Linked DNA regions of Homo sapiens: region 1 is linked to region 2. Evidence: fine-mapped expression QTL. A gene starts in region 2. The other region holds a variant in brackets. All regions are shown on one strand. Distances are from middle to middle.

Region 1 (2,928 bases), 47 kb after region 2:
ATTTTGGATTTCAGCTTAGTGACATGTAACCAGTTAAGTATAATGCAAATATTCCAAAATCTGAAAAAAATCAGAAATCCTAAATATTTCTGGTCCCAAGCTTTTCAGAAAAGGGATGTTCATTGTGTACTATGAAAAACACACGACCATTATACCCTTCAGTCACATCATTATATCCTTCAGTCACATCATTGTATCAAATCTTTCCAAAAGCATTTAAGAAGGTAAATAGAGTGAATTTCTGGGACTAAAACTTAAAAACACATTGATTCTACAAAAGTTTATTGCATATCCACTACTTGCAAGGCACTAGGACACAAGATCTCATACAGATCTAATGATCTTCTAAAAAAGCTCATGATGTCCCTCACACCATTGATATTAGATGCACAAACTTTTCAAAAGCTTCATATTAGTACACTAGAAGGGCCCACTATTTAAAGGAAAAAAATCTAACGAACACTTCCTTCTTCAGCTCTTCCCTCTTTCCAGCTTTGAAGGCAAGAGGTGAATACAGACATTGTATACCCAAGGCTCCCAGAAAGAAGTGGGAACAAATCTCTTTTAATCAATTGAATTGTGACTCTGAAGTTGCAGGGCACGCATTCCTCACACCAGGCTAGGCCCAGTCACTCAGCTACCCAGCAAGAGTTTGCAGATGTGGGTTGGAATCTATGGCGTGCCCTCTCTGTCTAGCGCTATTGTTTCCCAGACAAATATCAATGTAAACTTTCTACAAGGCCCTCACAGAAACTAGCTGCACAAATGCCATAACCTTATTTGAAATATGACAAAAGTAATTATCCTTCCCTTTCATGTGAAAACAGGAACTCTGTATTTTTAATTGACAAGCCAGAACTTACAATTTCTAGTTATTGTTGCCCCTTCTAAATGCATTAACATGTCTCCCCAAAATGTAATCATTGCTGAAATCATTTTTGAAACTCTTCTCTGGATTGGGGCAGCAATGGTAATGTAAAAATAACATTGGGAAGTAAAAAATCAAGACTGGGCCGGGCGCGATGGCTCACGCCTGTAATCCCAGCACTTTGGGAGGCCGAGGCGGGCAGATCACAAGGTCAGGAGATCAAGACCATCCTGGCCAACATGATGAAACCCCGTCTCTATTAAAAGTACAAAAATTAGCTGGGCGTAGTGGCGCACGCCTGTGATCCCAGCTACTCGGGAGGCTGAGGCAGGAGAATCGCTTGAACCCGCGAGGCAGAGGTTGCAGTGAGC[T/C]GGGATTGGGCCACTGCACTCCAGCCTGGTGACAGAGCGGGACTCCATCTCAAAAAAAAAAAAAAAAATCAAGACTGAAGTCTTAGAATAAGTTGTATAACTTGAGTGAGTCATTGAGCTTCAGCGTTTTCAGTTATAAAATGGGATTGATAATACCTACCTTATTGGTTGCTGAGGGGACTGCACAAGAAAACATACAGGAAAGCATTGTCTAAACTACAATACACCACATATATATGTAACATATTATCACTGGTCTCCCCGAGGTCTTTAGAATTTGCATCACATTCTTTTTAAAACCCTCAGTGGTGACAAAAATACTCATCCACTGAAAATAAATTTGATTTCTGGAAAAAAAAAGTTATTCAAAGCCAAGTCTATGTGATCAAACTGAATACCATTTTTAGTCCAAAACAAGATGTGACTATAATTTATCTTATTATAGTCATACATTATATGACTGTAATATAATGAGTTTCTAAACTTGATCTGATGGTATACCAAAAAGTTTCATAAATGTCTAGGTAACAGCAACAATAAAATAGATATATAACTTTGAATGGCATGATGAATAATAATTTGTATACAAAAGTTCTGGTTAATGATTATTACCACCCAACTACCAAACTATAACCTAAGTCATCCTTGATTTCTTTTCTTTCACCACCCCCCCCATATGATGGCATCACCCAATCCTATCATTAACAGCTAGGAAAATTCATTCCAATCCATTGCTATAGTCTATATCCTCTTCGTTTCTCACTAGGACTGTAACAAGAGCTCCTGAACTGATCTCCCTCGCACCAATCTCTTACATATCATTCAATAACACCAACACTAATTTACTGAAAAATAAATAAAATAACATGGTTTCATCATTCTCCTGCCTAAAAGTCTTTAACAATTTCCCGCTGCTTACAGTATAAGATCCAAACTGTGGGCAAACAACGCACTTCACAACGTGGCCAACTCTCTGGACCTAACCTCCCACAAATTCCTTTCAATCCACTGTAATTCTGCCACACTGAACATTACATTATGTCCAGCTACAGCAAACCATCTTTTGACCACATGCCTTTGCTCATGCTGTTCTCTGAATAGAGCCTCCCTCAGAGCCTGTTAAACTCATCCTTCAAAACTCAATTCCTAAGGGCCGGCGTGGTAGCTCATGCCTGTAATCCCAGCACTATGGGAGGCCAAGGTGGGTGGGTCACTTGAGGTCAGGAGGTTGAGACAAGCCTGGCCGACATGGTGAAACCCCACCTCTAGTAAAAATACAAAAATTAGCCAGGCATACTGGCACACCCCTGTAATGCCAGCTACCCGGGTGGCTGAGGTAGGAGAATCACTTGAACCCAGGAGGCAGAGGTTGCAGTGAGCCAAGATCACACCACTGCACTCCACCCTGGGCGACAGAGCGAGACTCAGTCTCAAAAAAAAAACCAAAACCAAAAAAAAAAAAACAACCAATTCCTGGATAGCAAGATCACTTCTTTAGCCTTACTTGCTATATCTGCCTTGCTCTCACACTTGTTCATATCTATCAATATTTCTTATGTGGTTTAATAATTAATCTATTTATCTCCCTGCTAGACTTTGAGCTCAAACTATCAAAATATTTTGGATCCATAGTACCACAGTACTTTATTTATTTATTTATTTATTTATTTATTTTAAGACAGAGTTTCG
Region 2 (2,928 bases):
ATGATCTCTGCTCATTGCAACCTCCGCCTCCCGGGTTCAAGCAATTCTCCTGCCTCAGCCTCCCGAGTAGCTGGGATTAGAGGCATGCACCACCATGCCTGGCTAATTTTTTGTATTTTTAGTAGAGACAGGGTTTCTCCATGTTGGCCAGGCTGGTCTCGAACTCCTGACCTTGTGATCCGTCTGCTTCGGCCACCCAAAGTGCTGGGATTACAGGCATGAGCCACCGTGCCCGGCCTGGATATACTTTATAATGGTCTCCTGGTCCTAATGATATCTTTGGGCAACTTATTTCTTAGTTTTTCCCTTTCATCTTGACACCTTATATATAAATTCACTTTACAATTCACAAAGCACAGTTCTACTTACTTATTAATTCTCCTAACCACCTCATAGATGGGTATTACAATACCATTTTATGAGTTTCAGAGGGGTTTCCTTGTCCCACACATATTAGGCTTATGTCCTGGCAGCCCCCCATTGAACTCTCCAAACCTGATCCTTTCCACTCTGTGATTTTCTCTCTTCATCCCTGCTCAATCTCCCTGCACCAGCACCCGATTCCATTTTATTCCAGTCAACACTAAACGCCTGTGTTCTTAGGTGCTGATTCTAGACAGTGACAGAGGAAATTTTTTAAGGACCAAGGACAAGATATGTTTTTCCTTCTGGGGACAGATTTGAGCTAGTTGCTTTTTAAATATTGTTCCTTTGTTATTCTGCCTGATAAGACAAAGTAGTGGGCCTTATAAACAGGATCTCACCAGGATTGAATACCTACTATGCTATGATATTGTCTAGACACTTTATTCATTTTATCTCACTTACCCTGTAAAAGCAGGCTCTATTATCCCCACAATACAAATGAGTTGATAGAAATTTAGTGAAGACAAGACAGTTGTTTAATGTCATATAGCTCCTATGTTCCCATGTTGAATAAGGATTCAAACCCCAGTATCTGGCTCTACAGCCTGTGGTACATTACACCATGTTGTCCAACAAGCATAGCTCTCAGGGTTACATGGTTTGTTAAAGTGGTTAAAAACCCCAATCAAAGGCCCGTGGAAGTTCTTAAGCAGGGGTAGGTTATGCCAGAAAAAAAGTAGTGGCTATTCAGCTAATTTTCTCACATTTACTCAGTCTTTCCCGTCTGTAAAATAAAAATGAATCTAAGTTCCAGAGAAAACAAATGGGGGCAGTGTGAGCCAAGGAAGTGAATAATAATAAGCAGAAGAGAAAGGCAGCCTCTGCTCATTGGTAGTCCCAGGAGGTCGGCCTTCTGCAGTTGCCAAGCAACGAGTGTAAACAGCACAAGATCATGGCCACTAACTACAGTGCCAACCAGGTAAGTTCCCATTCTCCATTTCTTTAACGTTTACTTTTGTTTTTCAGATTCTATCTTTGGACTGTCCCCTCTCATAGGATTCTGATCTTTGAACAGATAGCTGAGAGTGGAGTGAGATAATATTTTACCTCCTCAGGGATAGAGAGAGCCCAGGGGCGATCCAAAGGTATCTCTTGGTTAAATTTGTAGGGTGTAAACCAGAAGTTGGCAATTTTTTTTCTGTAAAAGGGCGGAGTGTAAAAATTTTAGGCTTTGCAGGCCAAGTGGCAAAGTCAAAAATATTCTGTAGCTACTTGCATAATTAAAGAAAAACATTTTTCCATAACATTTTTGACAAATTCAAAATATAACTGAGTACAATTTTTTGTACTACTAATGAAAATAATGGAATTTTGGGGGTTGAGAAAACATTTCACTTAACTGGGATTCAAAGTTAGTGTTCCATTTGACTGAATCAATTGTAAATGTTCATCTATAAAAATCACCCTTACTCTCAGGCCATCCCCAAACAGGCAGCAATATGGATATGGCCCATAGGCCATAGTTTACCAACTCCTGATCTAGACCAGTGCTGCCCAACAAAAAGAGTGCGACCCACAAATGTAATTTTAAATTTTCTAGTAGCTACATGAAAAAATTAAAACATAAAATTTAAATATATTGAATTTAACCCAATAAATCCAAATATTATTTCAACATTTAATCAGTATTTAAAAAATTATAATCAGACATTTTACGTTCTTTTTTTGTACTAAATCTCCAAAACCTGCTGGGTGTTGTAGCTCACGTCTGTAATCCCAACACTTTGGGAGGCTGAGGCACAAGGATCGCTTGAGGCCAGGGGTTTGAGACCACCCTGGGCAATATGGTGAGACCTCGTCTCTACAAGTAAATTTAAAAATTAGCTGGACATGGTGGCATGCACCTGTAGTCCCAGCTACCTGTGAGTCTGAGGGAGGAGGATCGCTTGAACCCAGGTGTCCAAGGCTGCAGTGAGCTAGGATCATGCCACTGACTCCAACCCAGGTGGCAGACCAAGATCCTATCTCAAAAAAAAAAAGAAAAGAAAAAAACTTAAAAATTCAGCATATTTCATATTTACAAAGCACCTCAATTTGAACTAGTCATATTTCAGGTGCTCAACAGCTCCATGTGGCTCCCGGCTCCATGCTGGACAGCACACATCTAGACCAAACAAATTACACCCTTGTCATAGTGACTTAAAGCCTACATGGTTGGTCAGGCCTTTGGTCTTCAAATCTAAAGAATTGTGCCTAGTCTTCATTTCCTGGGTTTGGGGCCTTGAAGTCTCATAGGGCTACTTATCTTTCTCTCCACAGTATGAAAAGGCTTTCTCATCCAAGTATCTGCAGAACTGGTCTCCCACTAAGCCAACAAAAGAGGTATTCCATGTTCAGTGCACCTACAAGATAGCCTCATGCTCTCCCTGTCAATTAACTCCTTTTAGCATTCTCTAAACTCCCATATCCTTCTCTGACCAAGCTCCCCAAATACTTCCCTTTTTCCCCTCACAAACCTTTATCTCTCCCACTTGTACCCCAGAGCATCTCTTCTCATGAAGG

Direction of the effects. Alleles are on the strand shown, and positions count from the first base shown. SD is a standard deviation of normalised expression in the study named.
With allele C in place of T in region 1, the expression in sigmoid colon of the gene that starts at base 1,311 in region 2 is lower (small effect, 0.18 SD a copy in GTEx).

The links. PIP is the estimated chance that this variant, and not a neighbour inherited with it, causes the effect.
Region 1: its variant is the best candidate, but not a certain one, in a credible set for the expression of CFAP126 in sigmoid colon (GTEx, PIP 0.55).

What each region holds. Positions count from the first base shown.
Region 1 is chr1:161,319,208-161,322,135 of GRCh38, reverse strand. The region is part of intron 1 of SDHC (succinate dehydrogenase complex subunit C); the gene reads right to left. Among named protein-coding and RNA genes, the nearest start is that of SDHC, 6.3 kb to the right of the region's middle. The variant T/C (reference allele first, on the strand shown) is at 1,240.
Region 2 is chr1:161,366,259-161,369,186 of GRCh38, reverse strand. It overlaps CFAP126 (cilia and flagella associated protein 126), which reads left to right and starts at 1,311. Exons shown (of 5, transcript NM_001013625.4): 1 at 1,311-1,345; 2 at 2,686-2,748; 3 at 2,909-2,928. The coding sequence starts at 1,319.